7 linked regions of the Homo sapiens genome follow. The protein of the gene in region 3 purifies or fractionates together with the protein of the main gene of each other region. This does not show direct contact. Each region holds a gene or a part of one and is shown on either strand. Other genes may lie near its edges.

The links.
Region 1: the proteins of SHPRH (region 3) and SUDS3 purify together in Homo sapiens (affinity purification with mass spectrometry, with the first as the bait; one large-scale study listed by BioGRID). This does not show direct contact.
Region 2: the proteins of SHPRH (region 3) and SAP130 purify together in Homo sapiens (affinity purification with mass spectrometry, with the first as the bait; one large-scale study listed by BioGRID). This does not show direct contact.
Region 4: the proteins of SHPRH (region 3) and LIN9 purify together in Homo sapiens (affinity purification with mass spectrometry, with the first as the bait; one large-scale study listed by BioGRID). This does not show direct contact.
Region 5: the proteins of SHPRH (region 3) and ARID4B purify together in Homo sapiens (affinity purification with mass spectrometry, with the first as the bait; one large-scale study listed by BioGRID). This does not show direct contact.
Region 6: the proteins of SHPRH (region 3) and GATAD1 purify together in Homo sapiens (affinity purification with mass spectrometry, with the first as the bait; one large-scale study listed by BioGRID). This does not show direct contact.
Region 7: the proteins of SHPRH (region 3) and CHD5 purify together in Homo sapiens (affinity purification with mass spectrometry, with the first as the bait; one large-scale study listed by BioGRID). This does not show direct contact.

What each region holds. Positions count from the first base shown.
Region 1 is NC_000012.12:118,382,906-118,387,062, reverse strand, and holds part of SUDS3 (sin3 histone deacetylase corepressor complex component SDS3), read right to left. Parts: exon of another isoform or gene 3,679-4,157; intron 3,052-3,678; coding exon 2,996-3,051; intron 950-2,995; coding exon 878-949; intron 1-877.
Region 2 is NC_000002.12:128,014,560-128,018,716, forward strand, and holds part of SAP130 (histone deacetylase complex subunit SAP130), read right to left. Parts: intron 3,357-4,157; coding exon 3,121-3,356; intron 1,989-3,120; coding exon 1,830-1,988; intron 356-1,829; coding exon 244-355; intron 1-243. UniProt on the Homo sapiens protein: Acts as a transcriptional repressor. May function in the assembly and/or enzymatic activity of the mSin3A corepressor complex or in mediating interactions between the complex and other regulatory complexes.
Region 3 is NC_000006.12:145,887,387-145,891,543, forward strand, and holds part of SHPRH (E3 ubiquitin-protein ligase SHPRH), read right to left. Parts: intron 715-4,157; coding exon 634-714; intron 1-633. UniProt on the Homo sapiens protein: E3 ubiquitin-protein ligase involved in DNA repair.
Region 4 is NC_000001.11:226,298,827-226,302,983, reverse strand, and holds part of LIN9 (protein lin-9 homolog), read left to right. Parts: intron 1-1,778; coding exon 1,779-1,811; intron 1,812-4,157. UniProt on the Homo sapiens protein: Acts as a tumor suppressor. Inhibits DNA synthesis. Its ability to inhibit oncogenic transformation is mediated through its association with RB1. Plays a role in the expression of genes required for the G1/S transition.
Region 5 is NC_000001.11:235,181,552-235,185,708, reverse strand, and holds part of ARID4B (AT-rich interactive domain-containing protein 4B), read left to right. Parts: intron 1-2,915; coding exon 2,916-4,124; intron 4,125-4,157. UniProt on the Homo sapiens protein: Acts as a transcriptional repressor. May function in the assembly and/or enzymatic activity of the Sin3A corepressor complex or in mediating interactions between the complex and other regulatory complexes.
Region 6 is NC_000007.14:92,450,174-92,454,330, reverse strand, and holds part of GATAD1 (GATA zinc finger domain-containing protein 1), read right to left. Parts: exon of another isoform or gene 3,631-4,157; coding exon 3,571-3,630; intron 1-3,570. UniProt on the Homo sapiens protein: Component of some chromatin complex recruited to chromatin sites methylated 'Lys-4' of histone H3 (H3K4me), with a preference for trimethylated form (H3K4me3).
Region 7 is NC_000001.11:6,104,108-6,107,781, forward strand, and holds part of CHD5 (chromodomain-helicase-DNA-binding protein 5), read right to left. Parts: intron 2,673-3,674; coding exon 2,509-2,672; intron 2,403-2,508; coding exon 2,288-2,402; intron 2,181-2,287; coding exon 2,173-2,180; 3' UTR 2,127-2,172; intron 1,321-2,126; 3' UTR 1-1,320. UniProt on the Homo sapiens protein: ATP-dependent chromatin-remodeling factor that binds DNA through histones and regulates gene transcription. May specifically recognize and bind trimethylated 'Lys-27' (H3K27me3) and non-methylated 'Lys-4' of histone H3.

The sequences.
Region 1 (4,157 bases), on a different chromosome or scaffold from region 3:
GAGAGTCACTGGCCCAGAATGAAAGATGACAGCAGCATGAGGAGTGGCACCCAACCCTCATTTTAAAACCCATCATTACTTCTACCATCGCAGGAACAAGGACTCTGCTGGCACCCAAACTGCTGGCTGATGATGAGCGTTAAAAATTCAACACATACACGCGATTTCCTGTAACCTCAGGAATCCATGTTTACACACTTTAAACAGTTGTCACATCTTACTTTCTGCATGGCTCTTTAACTCGGTGTTCCTTAACTTTACACGTTATACATGTGGTATCTTTTGTCAATGAAACACCAAGTGTCCTAAAGTCAAAGCAATGTGTTACATGACTTTATATTGCTCGCAGTGCTTAGATGTAGCAGGTGCTCAATTCATTTTTGTTGAATGAATACATTTACTGTATACAACTAATCAAGTGTGCGTTTTCTCTAAATTCTTATAAAAACAATACTTGGGGAAAATAACAAGAAGACCCTCCCCAATCCTAGCACAAAATACCAAAAAAAAAAACTTAAAATGGGACAAAAACAACCTACAATCCTTTTCCTCATCCGCACTTCTGACTGTACATCAGGCCAGCCATGCAGAAATGAGCAAGAGGGTGCAAGACTACTCTTGGGGTACCAGGGAGAACAACCTAACTCCAAGGAGCCTCCTCAGACACCCTCCACTTCTGGGCCATTCCTTAGCAACAGAAGCAGAAGATGAAACCACTTTCCATAACTGCAGCTTGGAAGTCTCTTTTCTGAAAACTCTCCCTGACAGAGTATCTGGGATATGTTTTGGAGAATAGCTCTTAGGGCTGCATTACACCGACGATCGGCAAATGGTCAAACATTGAAAGATGATTCATTGCCATTTAAAGGAGCCTTACCTGCATTCCGTATCCTCTCTTTGTACTGCTGATCTAGTTTTTTCATTCTCTTCTGATATTCCTGTAATGTACCTGATTTTGAACATTTGAAAAATAAAATTATTGTGAATATAAATCTGCTCTACATTTTGCTTCCTAAAATTATTATCTAGCATCAACACTGACTGTTTCAGTAACACCAAAGGAAGACACACCTCAGCAAAGTTAACTCTGGTTCTTAACCAAGGCACACAGCAGAAACCACTAGGGGCCCATTCAAAGTCTACCCAACCCAGTGGATCAAGGGTCTGTAGTGAGTGAGGGGGAGTGGAAAATTGCCAATATCTCCACACTATTCTGATCAGTTGCTGCAACAGTCTGAATCAACGGGCCTTCCTTTACTGGAAAAGGTTCATTCTCCTTCAGTAAGGTCTAGGTCAACGCTCTCCAGTAGAACCTTCTGCAATGGTGTGTTTTATATTTGCAATGTCCAACATGGCAGGCACTAACCATTTGTGGCTATTTTAGCACTTGAAATGTAGCTAGTGGAACCGAAGAACTAAATTATTAATTAAATTTAAACAGCCACATGTGGCTAGTGACAGCATTAAACAATTCAGGTATAGATTCTAACCAAATCGCTATTCATTTCATTGCTCTTCCCACAAAACAGTTAATTATGAGGGGCCCATCTTGTGGGGGGAAGTGTTTCCTGATTATAATGCCTGACCATGGGCTAGTCCAAGGGCGTGGATCACTCACCAGCAATAAAAGCACATAGTAGAAACAGCAGTATCAGGCTGGGCATGGTGGCTCATGCCTGTGATCCCAGCACTTTGAGAGGCTGAGGTGGGCGGATCACCTGAGTTCAGGAGTTCAAGACCAGCCTGGCCAATGTGGTGAAACCCCGTTTCTATTAAAAATACAAAAATTAGCCGGGCCTGGTGGCAGGCGTCTGTAATCCCAGCTACTCGGGAGGCTGACGCAGGAGAATCGCTTGAACCCAGGAGGTGAAGGTTGCAGTGAGCTGAGATCGCGCCACTGCCCTCCACCTGGGTGACAAAAGCGGAACTCAGCCTCGAAAAAAAAAAAAAGAAAAGCAAAAACAGTTTCACTGACAAGGGGACTCCACAATATGAAACCGAAGAGCTCACTGCCACAGCTAACTGTCCCCAGGACCTTGCAGTGTGCACACTGCTGTGCTAGACGCTCCTCATGCATAATCACATCTACTCTTACTTGCTTCATTTTGCAGATCAGAAAACAGATTAAACAAGAGAAACTGGCATGTCCAAGGTCACATTACTAGAAGCAGGGAAACTGGGATTCCAATCCCTCACAAAACTCCAGAGCCTGCACTCTTTTTTTTTTTTTTGAGACTGAGTCTCGCTTTGTCGCCCATGCTGGAGTGCAGTGGCACGATCTTGGCTCACTGCAAGTTCCGCCTCCAGGTTCACGCTATTCTCCTGCCTCAGCCTCCAGAGTAGCTGGGACTACAGGTGCCCACTACAACGCCCAGCTAATTTTTTGCATTTTTCAGTAGAGACGGGGTTTCACCATGTTAGCCAAGATTGTCTCGATCTCCTGACCTCGTGATCCACCCGCCTCGGCCTCGCAAAGTGCTGGGATTACAGGTGTGAGCCACCGCGCCTGGCCTCACAGCCTGCACTCTTAACTCTGATGCTGCACTGCCTTTAGCAGCTAGCAGCATTTGACAAAATACAATCTACTTTTAATGTAACAAGCAAAAAGGAGAAAACACAGTGTGAATAATCCACAAGGTCATTAACATTTGGTTTAGAAAAAACAGTAAAAACTTTATTCTTTGATAACAATGTCTCTCCTAAAAATCTCTAGCTTTAGGCACAGTGGCGTTCAATTCGTGCTCCATTGAAAGTCCCAAGTGAGATTTCATTTGAAGAAAGAATCTCACACATACTGGAAATAAATGTTTCAAAATCAAGGAGCTGGAAAATCACCACTTTACTGACAGCAAAAGATAGCAAAATGTACTGGATAGCTAAGATCAGCCAGACCGTGTTTTAAATAACTCCCACAGAGAAGTGAAATACACAGATTTCAAGGGTTTGTAATATTAAGAAGCATATTTAGAAATGCAGGATTCAATCACACACCAACCTTCTTGCAGTTGTTGCAACTGCCTCTTGAGAGAAGCCAGTTTGTCCTGATACATCCTATAAAAAAAAAAAAGTCACACTAACAGATAAAAACATTCAATACTCAATTCCAAAATAACCTACTCACAGAAATTAGCTGGGCTGTTATGGGAAGGTCATTAATGTCCTTCAGGGAAGAGAGGAAAGTAAAGTCTGCTTGCTGGCTTAAAATGCACCAGCAGCCACAGGGATCAGAAAGGAACAAGAAAGAACCCTGTGTTCCTCAATCTTATTCTAATTTTGTAGATTCTCCCATGTTATCCCATCTTTACAGAATCCGTCTAAAACTTGCAACGATAGCAGATTTTAATAAATGACAATTATAAACAGGCAAGCACACACACAATGTAGAAATGGCATTAAACACAACTCTTACATCAACTCTACAATTAGATTGTAAGTTACAGGAGAGTAAGATTATGCCTTCAGCATGTTTTTCTATGCAGATATGCTTAGCAGTGTAAGAACTAAGTCAATAAACCTTCATGTCATTTTTTAAAGCACTACTCTTTTAGGATCAGAGAAATAATAGTAATTCAGAAAGAAAAGTTAAAAGGCAGCATTTACTGGCAGCCCCAGCTGGATGGGAATACACAGCACACACGAAGCAAAAGCATTTGGCATGTTAGTTTTTTCCTCTCACACCTAATGGATTATAGGCAGTCATAACTTCAGCAAGTTGGTTTGAAGGTGGGTTCCACATATAAATCACATTTCAGCAAGTATTTTTGCTTCTACCTGAAAAACACCCTCAATTTAACAGTGATAAAAACAAGATTTGTGATCTGAAAGAACACTGTCCAACATATAACAAGCACAATAACCTTTTGGTATATGTGCTGCTGAAGTGAGCACATGGGCGTGATAACCTTTTTAGCGCTCAAATAAGGGCTGCAAATACAACCCAACCCTCTGTAAGGGGAGGAGAGTAGGCAGAATTTGAGACTCACACACATCTCACTCTTTCAGGGCAAATTCTGATGCACTTTAGATTTCCCCTTGAATTACACAAGGCATTCCATTTTAACCGAAATTTTTTCTGTATCATCAAATACTAAGGGAGGCCAGGCAAGGTGGCTCACGCCTGTAATCCCAGCACTTTAGGAGGCCGAGGCGGGTGGATC
Region 2 (4,157 bases), on a different chromosome or scaffold from region 3:
TTCCTGGACTCAAGTGAACCTACCACCTCAGCCTCCCAAAGTGTTGGGTTTATAGACATGAACCGCAGCACCTGGCCTTTTTTTCTTTTTAAATAAAAGAGGTTTATTTGGTTCACGGTTCTGCAGACTGTTGTTCTGCAACTTTAACAAGCTGATTCTAGATACATTCTGTGTTACGTATTTTACCAAATGTATATCTACTACTACATTTTGAGAGTTTGAACAAAACTTGCAAGTCGTTACCTCGAGGTAAATGAGAAGCTCCAATGTGAAGAGGGGGCCCAGGAGCATTGCTGCGGATGATAGACATTTGCACATTTGTAGTCATGATGTGATGCAGGTTACTGGGATGGCCCTGAAAGAAAGAGGATAGAACGTTATTTTTACATGTTTGCTCTTAGCCATTGCCTCTAGGAAGTCACCTGCCTCCAAATGTGGGTCAGGTTGTTTTTTAGATAGTGAGTATCCCAAGAGAAAGGGCTAAGGACATTCAGCTTGAGCTACTTTTACATGCCATACCGTACAATGAACTGTGCTAACAGGCATGTGAGAAGTATGAGGACCCCACAACTGCTGCAGGCCCACATAATTACAGATAATATACTTCGATATCTACGTTTAGAAACTCTCATCTGCGATATTACCTTTCACACTTGTTTTCCCTGTTCTGGCCAAATGCTTATTTTTTTTCCCATTCTCACTATTTCCTTTACATACCACTGCATCCATCCATTCTTTAAGCTTTTTTGTTTCTAAGTAAATGTCAGTTGGTATCCAACAGGTGCTCCCTACCAGTTCTTCAGCTCAACCCTGAAATGTCCCTTACATTCTCCCAAACCACAGAGTTCAGGGCTTCTCAGCTAAGGGTTCTGGTACTTCTGAGAGTACTCAGCAGTATGACAAAAGGAAAAAACACAGTACACCTCTTTGGGATATAAATTTTTCTTGAAAATGTGAAGGGAAAGTTTTTAGATTTAGTTTTTTTCCCCAGGTAAAAAATGTAAAATATTTAATTAATCAGGTACACAGCAGAGTAGGATTGCAAAATTTCACAAAAAAACCTTAAAACAGAAGACTTCAGAATAAATGTTCGCAACTAAGGCTGGGTGCGGTGGCTCATGCCTGTAATCCCAGCACTTTGGGAGGCCGAGGCGGGCAGATCATTTGAGGTCAGGAGTTGGAGACCAGCCTGGCCAACATGGTGAAACCCCGTCTCTATTAAAATAAAAAAATTAGCTGGGGGTGGTGGTGCCCGCTTGTAATCCTAGCTACTCGGGAGGCTGAGGCAAGAGAATGGCTCGAACACGGGACGTGGACGTTGCTGTGAGCCAAGACTGCACCACTACACTCCAGCTTGGGTGACACCGTGAGATTCTGTCTCAAAAAAAAAAAAAAAAAAGTTTGGAACTAGAGAGCTGCTTGAGGTAACCTATCCCAAGAGATGCACATCTGCTCTCCTCAGAGAAACCACAGAGCAGCACTGCCTACCCCCGGAAGGCAGTTCTTGACGCTAAAACCAAACACGAACCGGACTCCGGACTCCTCAAGGACACGGACTGTTTTATCTAGATTTATATATCACACTAGGGTCGAATCGAGCATCTAGTAGCTGCTCAATAAATTCTAGCTAAATGACCACTATGGACACTGGCTTCTACTCCCTTTACAGTTATCCTTCTCTCTCAAACCTACTATCTTCACTTGCAGGTATCAGTGACTGTTTGATCTTTTTTTATTACCGTGACTAATGTACTGCTAGCATTCAATAAATCATGATCAACAGTTTGGCATTTCAGTTTGAAAATCAGCAAATTAAAAGGAAGAAAAACCTGTTGTCCACTGATTGTTGCCACAGGAATGGCTGAAGCTTGAGGGATGCTACTCTCCATGGTAACGGTAACCTGCCCTGGAACCTTGGGGGGAAGTGACAGGGTAGAAGGTGGAGCAGGAGCAATGGGACGGCTAGGCATGGTGGGCTTCGGGGGCGGCTGCAAACAGAAAACCACACAAAACATATCAATGGCCTCATACTGGTGATGCATTTCAATCCACAATTAAGAGTGCACAAATCGAACCTGGAAAGTGCCAGGAAAGATGCCGTAAGCTTTATACATTTTATCTATTATCATCACAGTGTTTCCACTGAAGTACTAGCATTTCTATTTCACAGATAAAGAAACATACAAAGCAAGGCTAACTGACTTGCTCAAAGCCACACACACAGTAAGAAGTAGAACTGGGAATAAAGCCCAGAGCTGTATGGCTCACAGCCCACACCCTTTCTTCTACATGATGCTGCCTCCCAAGTTTGGGTGGATTGAACAAAACTCCCAGTAACTGAAACACAACCCCAAGGTAATACACAGGCAATATTCTCAGAAACCCCCAAATTAACCAGTTATTAAAACAAACCTTAAAGAAGAGTGCCACTCCACTTGGTCCCATGGTACTGGGTTATCTGAACTTATAACATTACTGTCAGCTGGGCACAGTGGCTCACGCCTGTAATCCCAGCAATCTGGGAAGCTAAGGCGGGCAGACCACTTGAGGCCAGGAGTTTGAGACCAGCCTGGCCGACATGGTGAAACGCCATCTCTACTAAAAATACAAAAATTAGCCAGGCGTAGTGACGTGCGCCTGTAATACCAGCTACTTGGGAGGCTGAGGCTGCAGAACCGCTTGAACCTTGGAGGTGGAAGTTGCAGTGAGCCAAGATCGCACCACTGCACTCCAGCCTGGATGACAGAGAAAGACTCCGTCTCAAATAAAAACAGAAACAAAACATTAATGTCATTAAGCCCCCACTGCTAAATCTGACTGGCTTAAAAAAAAAAGAGGGTCCCTTCAAGATTGTATCTAACTTAACATGCCCATAAGTTGAATAATATCAGTATCAAAATGGATAACAGCAAAGATCCTATGATGCCAACTGCCCAGCAGCACAAGACAAGGCACTGCAGAAAATCAGGGCTGAGTTACAGAAAGGAGCTGAACTCATATGTCATAAAGAAAAAATGAAATGTGATCCTAAGATACAGCCTAAGATTTTATACAAATTGTTACAAACATTAGCCAGTCTCGAGCTCTGGTTCAGTGTGAAGTTTTAACCCTCTCCATTACCTTCATAAGTCCCTCCGAAAATGAAAGTGGCACTGCTGGCGTCAGGTGTGCTGGCGGGGCTGTCACTGCAACAGGTGTGGCTGATGCGACAGCATGGTGTGTCGACAACATCTGCACCTGTGGATAGGGCCTTACCACAACAGGCTCTTGCTTCTCCTCCCGGGACTGGAGGGAGCTGCTGGAACTCATGTGCTCCCTGGCACTGACTTCAGAATCTCGACCAGATTCATCATTGACTAGTAAAGACATTAAGAGTGAGACAGTATGTCACAGTCTCCCAGTGTAAGATAGCAGCACAGACAAGAGTGGTACCTGAAGTTAAATCTCAGGATTGACAAAGTGGCCATTTCCTTGTGATGTTTTCTTAACAAGGTCAATATGGGCACTGGATTCTCCTGATGGACATCAGACAAAAGAGCCACAACTGTGGAATATAGAATTTATTCTGGATATTGTAGCCTTATGAACAAACTACCTGAAAATCATCTAAAATGAGCTGAAATAGTTAAAAGTACAATACAGGATGTAAGACAATTTCATTTAAAACATCCTCTTAGAAAGTTATAAAAGCCTGACATTAAAAAGATATTTTATGCTGGCCAACATGGCAAAACCCTATCTCTACTAAAAATACAAAAAAAAAAAAAAAAAACAAACCAAAAACCAAAAACCACGTTTTTTTGTAATCCCAGCTACTTGGGAGGCTAAGGTGGGAGGATCACCTGAGCCCAAAAGGCAGAGGTTGCAGTGAGCCAAGATTCCGTCACTGCACTCTAGCCTGGGCGAGAGAGGAAGATTGTCTCCAAAAAAAAAAAAAAAAAAAAAAAGGATGGCTGGTGCAGTGGCTTGCACCTGCAATCCTAGCATTTTGAGAGGCCAAGGCAAACAGATCCCTTGAACCCAGGAGTTCAAGACCAGCCTTGGCAACACAGTAAGACTCCATCTCTGCAAAAAATTTTAAAATTAAATGGGCATGGTGGCATGCACCCGTAATCCCAGCTATATTGGAGGCAGAGGGAGGAGGATCACTTAACCCT
Region 3 (4,157 bases):
GTTTTCAAAAAGATTTAAATAAATTATACCATAAATATTAGAAAGTTCTATGATTCCAGAGTCAAGCTTTTAAAATTAAGACTGGTTTAGTCTCTCTGCTTTTGTTTTGTCTTTGGATTGACACCACAATTAACCTTAACAAGTTTGTTTTTTTTTTTTTTTTTTTTGAGACACAGACTCGTTCTGTTGCCCAGGCTGGAGTGCAGTGGCACGATCTTGGCTCACTGCAACCTCCACCTCCGGGGTTCAAGCGATTCTCCTGCTTCAGCCTCCCGACTAGCTAAGACTATGGTGCGTGTCACCATGCCTGGCTAATTTTTGTGTTTTTAGTAGAGATGGGGTTTCACCATGTTGGCCAGGCTGGTTTCGAACTCCCAGCCTCAGAAAGTGATCCAATGTGGCAAAGGAATGTAGTATAGTTTATATTTACATGTTACAATTAATAAATTAATTCAAATATACAAAGTCTGGAGCACTGACTGGGAAACAGTGAAAAGGCAAAACGTCAGACTTTGCTTTTAAAAACGTATTTGTGCTATATTTTTCGTTGTCATCTAAGTGAAGAAGTTCTAAAGATACAAACTTTTAACAGGAAAACCTTCCCCCTTCTACTTGTGGTAAATTATTACCTACCTTCTCTCAGCAGTTTTCAGCATTGCCTGCATTCTTTCTTCTATTGTTGCTTTAATTAAGAATCTGTGTACAATAGTAGGTCTAAAAGGTACAGAAGAATTTTAAGCTTAAAAACATAGTAAAACAAATCAGTACAAACCGACTTCACATTTTATATGCTATATTCATCAGTCAGTTGGTGCCCACTTGTGGCAGGTGCTGGGAGGGGTTCAGCAGCGAATAAAATGAACTATTTAATCTCCATGAGCTGACATTCTAATGAGAGACAGACAATAAACACATAAAAGAGTAAGACGGTTTCAGGTAAATATAATGCTGGGAGAACAGGCTGACATGCAAACTGAAAAAAGAGTGATGGGAATGAGGCCAGTAGGCAAAGGAGGAGTAGGAAGAATATCCAAACAGAAGAAACAGCACATACATACACAGTCCCCGGGAAGGGAATATGCCTGGAACAAGCCTAACATGTTCAAGAGGCCAAAAGAAGGCTGGCATGGCAGAAGCATCCTGTAAGCGAGGGAGAGAGGTGAAAATAAGGGTGGAGAGATGTGCAGGGGCCAGGTCACACAGGGCCTTCCAGGATGTGACCAAGCATTTGAATTTTATCGTGGTTATAATGGGAAGCCCTTGGTGGGTTTGTATGCATGATTTGATGTATACCTGACTGTACTTTAGAAATCCCTTTGGCAACCGTGTGGAGGATGTACTTCTTGCTCAGCAAGAAGAGCACCAGAGAAGCCAGTTAAGAAGTCCTGTAGTCATCTGGGTAAGTAAGGGTGGATGCACTATGGTTGTGTCAGTGGAGATAGCAGTCAAGTAGATTTGGAATATCTTTTGGAGGTAGAGCTGACAAAACTTAAAAGATGACTGGCATGTGAGATGTGAAAAGAAAAATATAGAAGAGTCCGAGATTTCTGATCTGGGCAGGAACAGATGACAGTGCCACATTATAAGATGGGGAAAGCTCAGGGTGGGAGTGAGAGTGCAGAAGCAACACAGTTTTGTTTTGTCCATGTGAAACCTATCAGATACCTATTAGACAGGTATCCAAGGTGAGTCCAGAGATATGTGTGCAGAGCTAGAACTGGATATATGCACCTGGGACAGGAGCTATATGGGCATGTCTGGGCTGGGGGATATACACCTGAGAGTCATCAACCTGTAAAAGCTACCTAAAGCCCTAAGACTGGAAAAATTCATCGAAGGGGTGTAGACAAAGAACCCTCAGACCACTGGCAAGAAGTAGGTCACTAGAAATGTTATAAGTCTCACTTCAGTGATATGGTGGGGAGAAAATCAACCAGACAGGTTGACAGAGAATGGGGGATAAAAAAGTAGAGATGGAGGTAGGATGTATCAGAGTGTTTTTTTCTTTCTAAAGATGGATAATATTAAGACATATTTATGGGGTAATATATGACAGGTTGAGTATCCCTAACCAAAAACCCAAAATCCAAAACTTTTTGAGTGCCAACGTGACAAGTGGAGGATTCAACACCTGACTTCACGTGATGAGTCACAGTCAAAACACATTAAAAACGTTGTTTTGTGCACAAAATTATTTAAAATATTATATAAAATCACCTTCAGGCTATGAGTAGAATTTGTATATGAAACATAAATAAATTTCATGTTTAGACTGGGGTTTCATTCCTAAGATATCTCACTATGTATATGCAAATATTCTAAAATCTGAAAAAATCCTACAGGCAAAACACTTGAAGCATTTCAGTTAAGGGATGCTCAACCTGTACAAGGGAAATGTACACCTGTCCTTGAAAAATGAGAAAGAATGGAGTCCAGGACAAATGAATGGATGGCTTTTGAAAGAAAAGGGACACTTCTGCTGTAATAAAAGGGAAGGCATATGAGGTACTTTCCTGCTTATTACTGGATGACATATCCATGCTTCTGCCTACTACCAACCCCTTCCTCCACTTCAGTGTTTGATCCCATATCCTCTTGCCTACTCAAGGACATTGTCAAGCATTCTCCCTGTTCTCCTTCACTAGTTTTTGTTGTCTCTAATGAATCATTTTCTTACTAATTCTCCCATTTGAAAGGAAAACAAAAACCTCTCTTGATCTCATTCTCTTCCTTTTCTCTGCAGCAAAACTCCTCAAAATACTGGCCTTACCAGCCACACAGAAGCAGCAGTGCACTGTGGTTAAAGCTTGTACTGTGAAGGCAGAATGGCTGTGCCTGAAATCTGCCACTGCTTCTACTAGCTGCCTGACTATGGGCAAGTTACCTAACCTCTCTTTGTTATACAAATATTTGTTAAATAAGAAATACACAAAATCCCATTTTCTCCAAAACTAAAGTCAGGCTGTCACCTCTACCACTTAACCTGGTTTTGATCTCCATGTTGCTAAATCTAATGATCAATTCTCAATCCTTATCTTCCTTGACATTTTTCATAGCACTTGAAACAGGTGACCATAACCTCTTCTTTGAGGTACATTTTTCACTTGGTTCCTAGGACACTCCTGTCTTCTGGTTTTCTTCCTAACTCACTGTTTGATCTTTATTTGTTACCTTTGCTGCTTCCTTCTCCTCTCCTAGAACAGCTGAACTTTGGTGCCCTGGAGTTCAGTCCATGGTCCTCTATCTAAACTCTGTCTCTATCTAAACTCACTCCTAGGTAATCTCATTCAGTCTCGTGACTTAATGGACTTGTACATCTAGTTACAGAATAGAAATCTCCATTTGGATGTCTGTTCTTCCCTTACCAAATCTGCTCTACCCTGTAGACTTCTCCAGCTCAGTTGAAGGTTACTTCATCCTTCTAGTTGTCCAAGCCAAAACCCATGGTGTTATCCTTGACCCTCTCATACCCCATGTCTAGTCTGTCCAAAAGTACTATCAGTTCTATCTTCAAAATATATCCAGAACCTGACCACTCCTCATCATGTGCACTGCTACTGCCATGGTCAGGTCACCTTCAGCTCTCACCAGGATGACTGCAATAGCCTCCAAGACTCTCCCTGCTTCTACTCTTCCTTGCTCCCCTTCACTCCCACCCTATCACAGCACTCAGAATGATTCTTTTAAAACTTAAGTGAGATATGCCAAGCCTCTGTTCAAAGCCTTCCAATGGCTCCCGATTTCACACAGGGCAAAAGCACCATCCTCACAGTGGCTTCCTGGGCCCAATGTAATCCCTCTCCCCACTGAGCCCATTCACTTCAACTCCTGCTTCTCTCCCTTTTAGCAACTGTAGCTCCTTGCTATTCTTCTAACATACCACACTCCTGATTTAGGGCCTTTGCACCGAAAGCACTGTTTACTTGAACATTCTTTCACAAGATAGCTGCATGACTAACTTTCCCATTTTCCCATTTCTTTCAAGTCCTTGCTCAGACTTTCTCAATAAGGCCTTGCATGCCTTCCTGCCCAAACATTGCACTTTTACTTCCTCACCCTGCTCTACTTTTCCAGCTCCTAACATAGTCCAGATTGTACTTAGTTTATTGTTTACCACCTTTCTGTCTACCAACCCCATTACAGCTAGAATCGCACTC
Region 4 (4,157 bases), on a different chromosome or scaffold from region 3:
GAGAGTAGAGTGAAAGTAAGTGTCTTTAATGCTAATAGGTGTCTGTTTCACAAGTCTCTTACACAGACCTGTGGAGGAAAAAGTCAGTTGAGGTTTAGTGATCAGAGATGCATAGTGTTTAAGGATCTGAGATGAAGTGTTTCATAACTGCCATACTTTATCTGTTGCTTCTCATTTTAAGTCTGTTATCCATTTATATGAGATGTAAATCATAGCTGCTTTTGTTAAATAGCAAGGAGGATTAATCCGTCCTCTCTGATTTTTGTTCCTAGTTCATGTTCTTTTTTATTTAATCCCCTGAGATCATCCTTAATTATTATTTTTCAGATGACTTGGACTTTGCAATGTATACATCCAATTCTGAGATTTTTAAATTTAGTGCTTTCTCACTCTCAAAAAGCTTCTTTCTCTATTGGTTTGTTTTTTTTTTTTTTTTGGACATGGAGTCTCACTCTGTCACCCAGGCTGGATGGAGTGCAGTGGCGCAATCTTTGCTCACTGCAAGCTCTGCCTTGTGGGCTCACGCCATTCTCCCACCTCAGCCTCCCGAGTAGCTGGGACTACAGGTGCTCGCCACCACACCCAGTTAATTTTTTGTGTTTTTAGTAGAGACGGGTTTTCACCGTGTTAGCCAAGATGGTCTTGATCTCCTGACCTTGTGATCCGCCCACCTCGGCCTCCCAAAGTGCTGGGATTACAGGCGTGAGCCACCGCACCCGGCCTCTCTATTGATTTTTCTACTTTCCCTACCCATAGATCCTATAATTCATTCACACCAGAACCTGTAGCCTGATGTTTCTCAAAGTGGGTTACCTGCAACAGAATCCCCTGTTGTTTATTAATAATATAGATTCAGTCTAGATTTTGCATGTATGAGGAGCTTCCTTGTTATTCTAATGTCTTTTTTATTTTTTTGAGGCAGAGTCGTACTCTGTCTGTCAGGCTGAAGTGCAGTGGCACGGTCACAGCTCACTGCCGCCTCAACCTCCCAGGCTCCAGCAGGCCTCTCACATCAGCCCCCTGAGTAGCTGACACTTTAGGCACGTGCCCCCATACCCAGTGAATTAAAAACATTTTTTTAGAGACAGGATCTCCTTATGTTGCCCAGGCTGGTCTCAGACTCCTGGCCTCAAGCTAGCCTTCCCACCTTGGCCTTCCAAAGCACTGGGATTACAGGTGTCAGCCATCATACCTGGCCTCTAATGTACACTGGAGTTTGTTTTATCCAGTGGACCCCTCCAACTTTATTCTAGCCCCTCTTGGCCATTCTGTATTCCCTTTTCCAGCTTAGATCTTGAAGTATCACATATACCTGCATTCTAGACTTTCAAGGGACTTATTGCTTGCTCTGACAGTCCCTGAATCATTTCCATTGCCTGTTTTTTTCCACTCCATTACTACATCAGTCTTTGCCTCAATGGATGTCGGTTCCCTTTCTCTTTTCTTCCAGCACCACAGCACGCCTGGATGAGGATCCAAAATTACCTCTGTCCCCACTCTTCCTCTTTCTTCTGTTTCTTCACTTTCTTCTCCTGGAATGGTCTCCAGTTCTCACAACTTCAGCAAGACTCTCATATGTCTCTCTCCAGTTCTTTCTTTATCTGAGTTCTGGTTTATAGTTTGAATTGTCTGCCAGATATTTCGAATTGCACATTCCACCATCTCTTCAAACTCAACATTACTAAAACTAAATGGATCACTTTTACCCCCAAACCAAGGTCTTTTTCTCTCACTTTGGTTATGAAATAATTATTGATTTGTTTTATTTTTAATTGCAGGCTCTTCAGCAAAAGCCCTTGTCAGTTTAAAAGGTAAGAAGTATAGCATTTTTAGGTATACCATAGCTAAAAGTCTAATTTGTTAAATTAATCTGGATATAGTGTTTCCATTTTCCTTCTAAGTTATGATTCATTGTAGCTTTTCAGTATTGGTTTTCACTGATAACCTTAAATTAATATGCTTTTATAGGAGAATTGATCCTCAGTTGTTAGAAATTATTTTTAAAAATTTCTAAAATTATTGATTAAAAACCTTTCTAATTAAACATTCCATAAATATTTAGATTAAAAGCATTTGTTAAACGACTGTGCTGACCTATATGTTAGCATAATTGTTTGTTTGTTTGTTTTTGAGACAGTCTCTCTCTGTTGCCCAGGCTGGAGTACAACGGTGCAATCTTGGCTCACTGCAACCTCTGCGTCCCAGGCTCAAGCGATTCTCCTGCCTCAGCCCCCTGAGTAGCTGGGATTACAGGCATGTGCCACCATGCCTGGCTAATTTTTGTAATTTCAGTAGAGACGGGATTTCACCATGTTGGCCAGGCTGGCCTCAAACTCCTGGCCTCAAGTGATCTGCCCACCTTGGCCTCCCAAAGTGCTGGGATTACAGGCGTGAGCCACTGTGCCCAGCAGATTTTTTGTTTATTTATTTTTTGAGACAGGGTCTCGCTTTGTCACACAGGCTAGAGTGTGGTGATGTGATTACAGTTCACTGTAGCCTCGACCTCCTGGGCTCAAGTGATCCTCTTGCCTCAGCTTCCCATGTAGCTGGGACCACAGGCACATGCTACCATGCCCAGCTAATTTCTTTATTTTTTGTAGAGAGGAGGCCTCACTTTGTTGCCCAGGCTGGTCTCGAACTCCTGGGCTCAAGGGATCCTGCTGCCTCAGCTTTGCAAAGTGCTGAGATTACAGGCATGAGCCACCACACCTGGCCCGTAATAGCTTATTTTTAAGAGTCTTGCTTTCACTGGGCACGGTGGCTCACGCCTGTAATCCCGGCACTTTGGGAGGCTGAGGCAGGCGGACCACTTGAGCTCAGGAGTTCGTGATTAGCCTGGCTAACAAGGTGAAACCCCATCTCTACTAAAAATACAAAATTATCCGGGAGTGGTGGCAGGTGCCTATAATCCCAGCTACTTGAGAGGCTGAGGCAGGAGAATTGTTTGAACCTGGGAGGCAGAGATTGCCGTAAGCCAAGATCGCGCCACCACACTCCAGTCTGGGAGTCTGGGTGACAGAGTAAGACTCTGTCTCAAATTCCAAAAAAAAAAAAAAAGAATCTTGCTTTCTAAGTAATAATGTCTTGAAATAAAAATAAAAGAATAATAGTACTTTTCTCATTCTAAGAAAAAGTTTGACATGTTCCTTGGTCTCACTATTTCTTTTGGCAGGTACATTAGACTAACCTTTTTAACATAGTTTCTTTAAAATTTTACCTCTTGATTAAGATTCTGGTAGGTCAATAAATTTGGAACCAAGCTAAATATTCTCAAAGTACTTTTAGTCTTTAAAGCTACTATATTGTGCTTTGGATTGGTGATTTACCAAATTAAATCCTTCTAGCTTGAGAAGACAATTTGTCTTCCAGAACACCCCAGTTTGTTTGTCTTTTGTGATTCTTAAAAATTATTCCATTATTCTTTTTCTCCCAATATTAAACTCATTTCTCTCCCCCCTGCCTTTTTTTTTTTTTTTTTTGAGACTGAGTCTCGGTTTGTCGCCCAGGCTGGAGTGCAGTGGCACAATATCTTGGCTCACTGCAACCTCTGCCTCCTGGGTCAAGTGATTCTTGTGCCTCAGCCTCCTGAGTAGCTGGGACTGCAGGCATGCATCACCACACCTGGCTAATTTTTGTATTTTTAATAGAGATGGGTTTTCATCATGTTGGCCAGGCTGGTCTTGAACTCCTGACCTCAGGTGATCCTCCCACTTTGGCCTCCCAATGTGCTGGGATTACAGATGTGAGCCACTGCACCCGGCACTCATTCATCTTGATAAATCATTTATATAAGTAACGTACATTTCTTATGGAAAAAATGAGAAAATGCTGATGAGCCACTAGAAGAAAATAAAAATAACCAGCTTGTATATTCATCCCAGTTTTCTATGCCTCTATATAAACATCTTTTTTACAAAAATTAAACTTACCCCTCTTTATTTTCACAATATGTCTAATCATTATAATATGTGTAAATCATAATATGTCTATTCGATAGAATTCTTTTCTGCTTGTGTACAACTCTGAAGACATTTCTCTGAATTAAGGAAAACAGAAATAACCACGCTGATTTACTTTTTCTTTTTTTGTGAGGGGACAGAGACTTGCCATGTTGCCCAGACTGAAGTGCAGTGGTGCTATCTCGGCTTGCTTCGACC
Region 5 (4,157 bases), on a different chromosome or scaffold from region 3:
AAACTCTCAATCAATGAAGTTTGAGGGTAAGGATGTATTCAGATAAGTAAGGACGATGAATATTTATATCCCATGTACCTTTTTAAGGAAACTACTCGATGAGCTCTAGTACAGATGAGATAACCAAGGAAGAAGAAGATGTGAGATTCAGTTAACAGTGGACCTAGCTCAAAAGAAAGCAGTGAGGAGGATTCCCCGGATGACAGCTGTTAGAGCAGACCCAGAGAGATACCACCCAGATGCTACTGCAGAAAATAGCTCTCTAGGGTGCAGAGATAGGATGAATAAGGGGAAATTGGATACAACGCTTAATTTAATGAAATAAAATAATGTAAAAGAGATACAAAGGAAGATGTAACATGCAGAAAAGTAGTTGGAAACTCTTGGAAAAATAAAATGCTGTATAAGAAAGGAAGTTTATCAAATGTACTACTTATTTCTGCAGGGAACCACATTTACATATGTTATAAATACTATATTGTAAAAATGAAAGATAACTATATATAGAAAGGATGGTAGAGGGGAGATATGGGTGTTGATAAGTAAGAATCCCCATTGCTCATAGAGGATAAACTTTATAAATAAGTCAGCAGGCCAGGGACGTTGGCTCATGCCTATAATCCCAGTGCTTTGGGAGGCTGAGATGAGCAGATCACTTGGGGTCAAGAGTTCGAGATCAGCCTGTCTAAAATGATGAAACTTCATCTCTACTAAAAATACAAAAATTAGCTGGGCATGGTGGCATGTGCCTGTAGTCCCAGCTGCTTGGGAGGCCGAGGCAGGAGAATTGCTTGAATCCAGGAAGAGGAGGTTGCAGTGAACTGAGATCACACCACTGTACTCCAGCCTGGGTGACAGAGTGAGATTCCGTCACACACACAAAAAAATAAATAAAACAAATAGTATATTATGAATAGTAAGAGATGACTATAACTATCAGATGTTAACACTTTGGAGGTGGAAAAACAGATTTTTATCCTCTTTTTGGTTTTTCATTATGAGTCTAGATTTGTTTTTAATGATGTATATGTATTGTTTTGATAATTTAAAAAATGTGGCCATGCAGACACACATTGTAAAGGTGAAATGGTTTCACAATCTTAGTTATGTCAGTTATGTTTTACATTTAATGAATTTAGCTAAAGAACATGCATGGATTTCTCAGTAGAGAGCTATAGTTAAGGTTGTAAGTTCTGGAGTTAAATGACTTAGATTTAACTACCTTGGGGGGTAGATTAACCTCTAAACCCCAGTCCCTTTTTTTTTGCTTTGTTTTGTTGTGTTGCTTTTTGTTTGTTTGTTTTTCTTATTTATTTAAGACCCTAGTCTCTTGAACTATAAAGTGGGGCTGATAACATGTATCTCGTAGCATTGTTCTGAGGATTGAATGAGATGGTCTGTTCAAAGTGTATCAAAAGTAACCAGCATGTAGTAAGTTCTCAGGAAATGTTATCTTAAAATAACAATAAAATGATTTACCAGAATGAACACACTGAAGCAGTAAGTTCCATAATTAATTTTACATAAGTTATCAGTAACTAAAATTAATTATATCTATTCTTTAAAACATCATGGAAATCATTGATTACAAAATTATTGGATATTCATTATTACATTGAAAAATGAAGCTGGCCAGGTGTGGTGGCTCATGCCTTTAATCTCAGCACTTTGGAAGGCTGAGGTAGGCAGGTTGCTAGAGCTCAGGAGTTCAAGACCAGCCTTGGCAACATGACGAGACCCTGTCTCTACAAAAAATACAAAAATTCACTGGATGTGGCACACCTGTAGTCCCAGCTACTTGGGTGGCTGAGGTGGGAGGATCATTTGAGCCCAGGAGGTTGAGGCTGCAGTGAGCCATGATAGTGCCTGGGGAACAGAGTAAGACCCTGTCTCAGAAAAAAATAGAGAGAGAGAGAGAAATAAAGAAAGAGAAAGGAAAGAGAAAGGAAGGGAGGCAGGGAGGGAAAGAAAATAAAACAAAACAAAACAAAGGAAAGAAAAATGAGAGGCCAGGTGCAGTAGCTTGCTCCTGTGATCCCAGCTACTCAGGAATCTGAGGTGGGAGGATCTCTTGAGCCTAGGAGTTTGAGGCTGAAGTGCACTGTGATTGTGCCACTGCACTCCAGCTTGGATGAGAGAGTGAGACCGTCTCTGATGAAAAGAAAAATGAAGGCTATAGTTTCATAAGAGTATAAACTTGGGGCCAGGCGTGGTGGCTCACGCCTGTAATCCCAGCACTTTGGGAGGCCGAGGAGGGCGGGTCACGAGGTCAGGAGATCAAGACCATCCTGGCTAACACAGTGAAACCCCGTGTCTACTAAAAATACAAAAAATTAGCCGGGCGTGGTGGTGGGCGCCTGTAGTCCCAGCTGCTCAGGAGGCTGAGGCAGGAGAATGGCGTGAACCCAGGAGGCAGAGCTTGCTGTGAGCCGACATCACGCCACTTACACTTTTAGCTTGGATGACAAAGTGAGACTCAAAAAAAAAAAAAGAAGAATATTAACTTGGAGGTAGCACAATCTGGGATTATATCCTGACTCCACTATTTTCTCAGATATATTATGATAAAAATATTATACTTATATAAACTTGGAGAAGCTTTTTTCTTTTTTATTTCAGCTTTATTAAGGTACAGTTTACATAAAAGTGATGACTTTTATGTTTAAAATGTGATGGGTTTTGACAAAAGTATACAGTGTTACAACCATCACCGTGATCGTAATAGAACATTTCCATCATTGGAAGAGCCTCTTAGCCTCTTTGAAACCCAGTTTCTTTGCATGTTACATAGAGATAAAAGCCAGCAACCTCGGGTGGCTGTATACACAGGACCTAATATATACAGTCCCTGGCACATAGAAGACATTGCTAGTGTTCTTATCATACTCATCATTTTTTTTTCTGTTATTTTCTAGCTTCTGAAAGTTCTGCTGAAGACAGTGAGCAGGAAGATGAGAGAGGTGCTCAAGACATGGATAATAATGGCAAAGAGGAATCTAAGATTGATCATTTGACCAACAACAGAAATGATCTTATTTCAAAGGAGGAACAGAACAGTTCATCTTTGCTAGAAGAAAACAAAGTTCATGCAGATTTGGTAATATCCAAACCAGTGTCAAAATCTCCAGAAAGATTAAGGAAAGATATAGAAGTATTATCCGAAGATACTGATTATGAAGAAGATGAAGTCACAAAAAAGAGAAAGGATGTCAAGAAGGACACAACAGATAAATCTTCAAAACCACAAATAAAACGTGGTAAAAGAAGGTATTGCAATACAGAAGAGTGTCTAAAAACTGGATCACCTGGCAAAAAGGAAGAGAAGGCCAAGAACAAAGAATCACTTTGCATGGAAAACAGTAGCAACAGCTCTTCAGATGAAGATGAAGAAGAAACAAAAGCAAAGATGACACCAACTAAGAAATACAATGGTTTGGAGGAAAAAAGAAAATCTCTACGGACAACTGGTTTCTATTCAGGATTTTCAGAAGTGGCAGAAAAAAGGATTAAACTTTTAAATAACTCTGATGAAAGACTTCAAAACAGCAGGGCCAAAGATCGAAAAGATGTCTGGTCAAGTATTCAGGGACAGTGGCCTAAAAAAACGCTGAAAGAGCTTTTTTCAGACTCTGATACTGAGGCTGCAGCTTCCCCACCGCATCCTGCCCCAGAGGAGGGGGTGGCAGAGGAGTCACTGCAGACTGTGGCTGAAGAGGAGAGTTGTTCACCCAGTGTAGAACTAGAAAAACCACCTCCAGTCAATGTCGATAGTAAACCCATTGAAGAAAAAACAGTAGAGGTCAATGACAGAAAAGCAGAATTTCCAAGTAGTGGCAGTAATTCAGTGCTAAATACCCCTCCTACTACACCTGAATCGCCTTCATCAGTCACTGTAACAGAAGGCAGCCGGCAGCAGTCTTCTGTAACAGTATCAGAACCACTGGCTCCAAACCAAGAAGAGGTTCGAAGTATCAAGAGTGAAACTGATAGCACAATTGAGGTGGATAGTGTTGCTGGGGAGCTCCAAGACCTCCAGTCTGAAGGGAATAGCTCGCCAGCAGGTTTTGATGCCAGTGTGAGCTCAAGCAGTAGTAATCAGCCAGAACCAGAACATCCTGAAAAAGGTGAGAAGGAAAATGTGTATGTTGACTTATTTT
Region 6 (4,157 bases), on a different chromosome or scaffold from region 3:
TGAATGAAAATTATACATACACATACGAGGGTGCATATATGACAGTTTACATCTGGAGAAAAGATTTGTTCATAAAGTATTTTGATTTTATATTGCCGTAATACCATCCCCACTTTTTAAAAAATAGACTTTATTTTTTACAGAGGTTTTAGGTTTACAGCAAAATTGAGCAGAAGTAGAGAGATTTCCCATATACTTCCTGCCCCCACACATGCACATCCTCCCCTATTATCAATAACCCCTCCCACCACTAGAGTGGTACACTTGTTACACGGATGAACGTACACTGACATAGCATCATCAAAGACCAGAGTTCACATTAGGGTTCACTCTTGGTGCTGTGTATTCTGTGGGGTTGGGCAAATGTATAATGACATGTACCCACCATTATAGTATCATACAAAGAGAGTATTAATAGTTTCACCGCCCTAAAAATCCTCTGTGCTCCGTACTATCCCTACTTTGTTAGCCACAGTCATGAAGCAGTAGTAAGGTTAAACGGCTTGCTGAAAGCCATAGAGACTGCAGCCAAAGCTCCTACATCAGCTCAGCAGTCTTTTCTCTGTACTGTCTTGAAAATCATGCTGATTTGGTAAGAATGCATTCTACATGCCACCCTCCCCAACCATCCACTCAAAGAAAATAGATACCATGAATTCAAACCAAAACAAATTCAAACCAAAAATAATCTTTGGATTATAGTCTTCAGGATATGTTTACCTCAACCTACTGTACATCTCCTAGACTCACTGCTGCCTTTCTCTTCCACTCCCAGTTGAGTTTTATATCCTTCCACAACAGGACTACTAGTATTTCTGGCATTCAAGGCTTTGTGTCTCATTCATTTCTGTTCCACTTTATACCCAACTAACTAATGTGTACATGTCCTGTGTTAAATCCTCCCTATGACTCTGGTATCCATCCTATGTCCTCTTCCCTGGGTCTTGAGCTGGAAATAATCTCTCCTCTGAACACCCATAATGGTTGATCCAAATCTTTATGACATCCAGCACCTCCTTAAGTGGGTATAGTTCTTGGTAAGATATACTGTCCTTGACTACGGGAACAGTGTAATTCATTGCTGCTTCCCTTGAAACAGGGACTTGGCAGCAGGTAAAGCTGTAGGAATGTGTACCTCAACCATAAAAACACTTTTGAGGAAATACTTCCAGTAACTGAACTGTAACATAGCACCTGATAGGCCAGGAGTTTTTTCCTGGTGGACCCTTTATCCAAGTGTCTGAGGGTGGCTGTTTCATCTGGATCACTACGGATGGGTCTGGTCTATGCAGGCCACAGTCCGCTACTTGCTAGTTCCTACCCATCAATAGCTGGTCCTTCCTCCCAGCCATCAGTCCAAAGTTATTTATCATATAAATAGTTTGCATTTATGGTTTGTTTGTCCACATGTATAATCAATATTCCCAAATTCTAAATGAGAATACTTGCTTATCATAGGCTTACTATGCATAACACAGCATATTCAAATGTATGCTGAATGAATATGAATCCAAAACATCTACTTTCATAGTGTAAAGGCAGAAATGCAAAGTAAAAACAATGTCTTAGTGAAAGATTCCAGTGGTAGGCAGTGCCTGGCACATAGTAGGTATTTATTAATATGTGCTGTGTTGTGTACACATATATAACACCAAACAGGACTAAGTCACTGATCTGAGTAGTCTCCTCATTTGCTGAGAGGATTCAAGGTTTCTGGTAGAGAAAAGGGGTCCACACGAGAACAGCACTAGTTTAGGCATCACCAGATCTGAGTTCATGGAGTTGTTCTGCCACTGCCATGCTCCAGGGAGGCCACTCAGCCATTCTGGGTCTTGGGTGGTCACACTCTTGGCCGTGATCCCCAGTGGCTCCCACTCAGGCTCCTCTTGCATGCCTGATCTGGGCTCTAGCTCAGTGGCTGGCAGTGACCTCTTGAACTTGCCACCATGGTGCTGCCTGCCAGTGGCACTGCTGTGATAGCCACTACAATACTGGGCATTTGCAACATTACTTGACTACTTTGTTGCATTATTGTCCTTATCATTTAATAAACATGGGTGGCAGACAACAATACGAAAGTACAGACAGTCACAATAACAGGTCCCACACACCCTTCCATGGAGACACACATGGAAACTGTTAGTACACTAAACCCGTAGCTCAACAAGTTGCTTCTGGCCTTAATCTGTAAACTGTGAAGGTAATGCACAAATACGAAGATGTGATAACTCCTACTATTCATTGAGTGCTTACTCTGCTAAGTGCTTAACACATATGATTTCATTTGACCCACTGAGGTAGTAACTATTTACAATTCCTATTTTACAGATGAGACATTAGAGAGGTTGGTCCTCGTCACATAGCCAGTCACTTGCTAAAGCTGTAGAGCCAGGAACTATGCTCTAGGCTTAAGCTCTGGCATGAGACTGCCTCACTCCATGACTTGTTGGCTATGTGATCTTGGACAAGTTAATTAACCTCGCTGTGCCTCAATGTTCTCATCTAGAAAATGGGGATAGTAGTATCCACCTCATAGAGTGAACTGAATGAAATAAAGCATGCAAAATGCTCAGCCACTGATACACAGCAACTGTTTGCTAAACTTTAGATATTTTATTAACAATGTATTAAATGTTGGAAAAATAAGAGAGATGTTTGCCTGTGTACAGACTTTTTTTGTTGTTGGTTTTTCCCAGCCCTGCTGAGGAATGCCAGTGTACCCCTGTTGGGAGGAACAGACTTCGACTATATAGATTGTGGGCTTAAAAAAAAGTATACTTAAGGGCATCATCACTTGAGTTTCTCAGTCCACCTGGGTCAAGTATAAAGTACTAACTCACACCACTGTCCCCTAAATGACAGTTCAGATCCCGAAACACCAAATAGCCTTCAATGGTTGCTGCCTGTGCCGTGCCAGGCCTGCCGAGCCTTGGGGGTCTATGTTCTAATTCCTTTCCTAAGACTTCTGGTTTAAACACAACAATCTGTCACTTCTCTCACTGAGGTATCAGATGTTCATGGACTTTGGCCCTGGGAAACCTGACCTCCTCATTCTTTTATCAAAACATCTTGGAATTCCTCTCACTATGAATTTCTAGTAGGTGTTAATCCTCACTACTGCCCTTACTCAGCTCAACTCCACTTAAAGGCATTTTAGAATCTCTGGGCCTACTCTACCCATTTGACACCACAGTCGACAACCTCTACTAGTCCAAATCCTGTCTCTGTCCTTCTCATTCTTCAATGCCATCGCACTAACGGCTCAGTCTTCCATGGCTCCACACTATACAATCAGCATTTTAAGAATAATTCCTACAATCTACACTAAAAAAAAATACTTAAGATCCTCACATCATGTGTCAGTAGGCACTTTCTCCTCCCACTTCAGCTCTAGATGAGATGTTTTAATAACAGCCACTTATGGGGGAAAACAGCTAAGAAGGGAACAAAAAGTATAATCACACCTTATACAAATAAAGAGTAGCAGAGACCTTTAGACTAATCCAACATTTTAGTGGCACATTACCCACTAGGCCCAACTCTTCCTTCAGTAACTCTACAAAAGCTTACCTTGTAGAAGATTGATTCTGCAGTGATTATAGTGGAAACTGACTCAGGAGCTTTGATGGGCTATGAAAATACAAAAAACATTAGCACATTCATAGTATGTATGTGTCTACAGGCATTTTCCCAGCCCTATGAGAGTTCTGCAATTTGAGAAGTACTAAAATGTATTGTTTGGTGACAAGAACTGCAATAAAAAGATAAATGATTTTCTGAATGTTGTGGCAAAGCAGTCTATTTCCACTGCAATTTCTGCTACTATTAGCTTAAAAATTGCTGAGACAAAGGACAACCTTCTGATTATGCTGCTGAGATCTAATGCAAAGTCCTCTCAGAGCTTCACTACACATAAACATTCCAGTTATAAAAATGTACCTGCTCTAATAGCCTGAGCATGACAGAATGCAAGTAACAGAAAATGTACAGATGAATACAAAGTGAAAAAGTGTCTCCTCAAAGACATTTCCCAACTCAACTATGGAACTAGCCATAATACTCAACATAGGTTTTCTAGCAAGCTGAAACTAAGGCTTTAGAAACTTTGAGAGTTCTTAGTAATTTGCTACCATCCAACCATTTTTGAGATCTCTACT
Region 7 (3,674 bases), on a different chromosome or scaffold from region 3:
AGGATCACACACAAACAGGCCTAGGGAGGGCCTGACCTGCTCCCCATCTCCGTCCCCAACTTGGAGGGGCAGGGTCCGGGGGAGTGGGTGGGATTCCAACAACCCACATGTGGGAAGATGGTTTTGGGATGTCAGGGCGCTCCTGGCAGGAAACAAGGCAGCAAGCCCTTGGTGCTGCGGCTGGGAGGGGTCTGCAGAGGGCACTGGGTCCAGTCCCCCTCCAGGCAGAACTCTCCCCACGCCTTCCAAGAGTGCAGCCTCAGGCAAAAAGCCCCCGGGAAGGCCTTTCCAGGGACAGGGGAATGGGACAAGTCCAGGCCCCCAGGGGCAGCCCGGTTCCACCTCCGGAGGTGGGCAGGGTAGGCATCCCAGGGCACAGGGCAGGGCCAGGGTCTCCTGGGCCAGCTCAGGGCCCATGACCCTCCTTGCTGGGGCGCAGCTATCACTGCCCTTAACCACACCTCTGGCAGAAGGCAAACCCAACGCAGCAGTGGCTCCGAGGCAAGTGCTGCCCCCCCCCCAGCCCACCCTCCCTGGGATCATACGCTTCTGCCTGCTGTGAAGAGCCGGGGCCACAGGCCCCCCACTGGTAACAGAGTCCAGGGCCTTCAAGATGCGCTGGGCCGGGGACAGACACCTGCTGGCAGAGGATCCACCTCCCCACAAGGAGAGAGCAAACACCTGGCGGCCTCCAGCCTTGGCAGGAAGGAGGGGAAATGTCAGCCAGGGTCTCACCATAGGGCTGGACAGCGGCTCCCCAAACCTGCCCTGTCTGGTGCTGGGAGGCTCCAAGCGGGCAGGGGGCCAAATCAGAAGGGGCTGTCACACAGGTGCAGACAGGTCAGGTAGGGGACACTGAGGGCTCCTAGGGCACCGGGCGCCATGTCCTCCCCAGCTGGGCTGAGTCCACAGGGCAGTGCCAGGACTACCTTGGGTCTGGAACCCATCGGTAAAGAGACATCAGTGCTGCAGGTTCGAATCTTCCATACGTCATCCAACTTTTATCAAGACAAACGTGTTCAAGTCTTCAATAGGAAAGTGCAAAAGATGTACAAATAAATGAAATCTCTTCTAAGAAGTCGTCTGGAAAAGGTGGCGAGGGGGCACGTCCGGCGTGGTTGTGGGGGCAACGCTGTGTGGAAGAACACTTGAATTATGATGAGGTGGCACTTCTGGGCTCTGGCCCAGCTGAGCTGGGCCTCGTCCTCCATGTGATGGCATTACTAGGTTTCCCTTTTTGTCCCAAGGTGGCGCTGGCTCCTAAAAAGGTGGCAGCTTTTCTCTCCCATGTGGGTCGGGCAGGTGGCCCGGCAGGCGTGGCTGCAAAACGCAAATCAGTGGGTTAAGCAGGTGGGCAGTTATAGGGGGCATCAGGGTGGCACCCAACAGCCTGTAGCTGCTTCTCCACCTATCACAACCAACTATGATCGGGGTGCCCCCCAGCCATGACCTCCCAGCCACAGGCTGCCGGGCCAGGCCATGAGCTACACCCAGAGTGCCGAGAGCACCCAGGAAGCAGCAGTGGGCAGGGGCAGCCAGCCAGGAAGCCCCTCTGGAGCCTCCTCCAGCAAGACACGGTTCCCACAGGGACAGACACAGCGTAGTGGAGGCTGGTGGCCCCAGAGAAGACCAGAATGAACTGGCAGTTTCTCTGAAATAAGCCCCCTCTCCTGGCCAATAGCCCCCACAAAACCCTCAGCCACCCTCCTGGTCCTGGGCAGGAAGTGAGGGTGTAAGACAAGATGTGATGTCTGCCACCAGCAGGACAGCAGGGGCAGGACAGGGCTCCAGGCGGGGGCAGCAGTCTCTGACTTCCGCTGGGAACATGTGTGCAAATGAGAACACATGTGCACACACAGGAGCTCACCCAAGTCCACCGACCCCTTCATGTCCTGCCACCCCAGCCTCCCAGTGGACAGACACGCTGGCCACAAGGTGGTCCCAGGGCCAAGGGGGCAAGGTAGAGGGGCTCCAGGCAGGTGGGTGGCTCTCAAAGCCGCCGGAGGCAGTAAAAGCTCCAGGACTTAGGGACGGGAGTCAAGTGCAGGGGCAGGGCTGACTGTGGCCAGGCCTGGTTTGCCAGCAATGGGGTGGCGGGGAGGAACACAGCACCCAGCAGCCCTCACCTCAGCTGGAAATGAGCGCTGCAACACAGGGAAGTCTCGAGGACGGCTAGATATCTGTCAAAAAAAGAGGAGAGCCGGGCTTGCCTGACGTTGGCAGCAGCAGGCAGGCCGGGCCCGGCGGGCACCCGTGTGCATGCTGCCCGGAGCGGACGGGCACCTACCGGTCACATAGGGCCCCAGGGGCATCTGGTTGTAGTTGACAATCCCTCCCGGTCCAGGGCCCCGGAAGTTGGGCCCAAAGTTGTTGCTGTACATCTGGGAGGAGCCGAAAGCGCCCTGGAGGCAAGGACTCAGCTTCACAGGTGGTCTCAGGCCCCCCACCCAGCCTCCACCCAGGGGCACGCCAGGGGGCTCGGGCCGGGGCACACAGGCCGAGCCTGACCTGCTGGATGGTGGGGTCCCCGGCGCGGTTGGTCAGGCGGCTCAGGATGCTGCGCTCCGACATCTGCAGCCGGGCGGCCACCGGGGGGATGCGGGACAGCATGGATGGCAGCCGGGTCACGTCGGCCTTCATGTCGCTCAGCAGCTCCTCCAGCTGGTTCAGGACTGTGGTGGGAGGCGGAGGGATGGTAGGATGCAGGGATGGAGGGGTGGAGGGATGGAGGAGTGGAAGGATGGAGGGATGGAGGGGTGGAGGGGTGGAGGGGTGGAGCAGTGGAAGGATGGAGGGATGGAAGGATGGAGGGATGGAGGGGTGGAGGGGTGGAGGGATGGAGGAGAGGAGGGGTGGAGGGGTGGAAGGATGGAGGGGTGGAAGGATGGAGGGATGATGGAGGGATGATGGAGGGATAATGGAGGGAAGATGGAGGGATGGAGGAATGATGGAGCGATGGAAGGATGATGGAGGGGTGGAAGGACGGACGAATGGAGGGGTGGAAGGACGGAGGGATGGAGGGATAATGTAGGGATAATGGAGCGAAGATGGAGGGATGGAGGGAAGGTGGAGGGATGGGGGAAGATGGAGGGATGGAGGGATGATGGAGGGATGGAGGGATGATGGAGGGATGGAGGGATAATGAAGGGATGATGGAGAGATGGAGGGATGATGGTGGGATGGCGGAGTGGAGAGATGGAGGGATGATGAAAGGATGATGGTTGGATGTTGGAGGGATGGAGGGATAATGAAGGAATGATGGAGAGATGGAGGGATGATGGAGGAATGGAGGGGTGGAGAAATGGAGGGATGGAGGGATGATGGAGGAATGAAGGGATGAGGGAGGGATAATGGAGGGATGGAGGGATGATGAAGGGATGATGGATAGATGGAGGGACGATGGAGGGATGGAGCGGTGGAGAGATGGAGGGATGGAGGGATAATGAAGGGATGATGGAGAGATAAAGGGATGTAGGGATGATGAAGGGATGATGGATAGATAAAGGGATATAGGGATGAAGCGATGATGGAGGGATGAAGGGATGATGGAAAAATGAAGGGATGATGGAGGGATAATATAGGGATGGAGGGATGATGGAGAGATGGAGGGATGATGGAGGGATGAGGGATGATGGATGATGGAGAGATGGAGGGATGATGGAGGGATGGAGGGA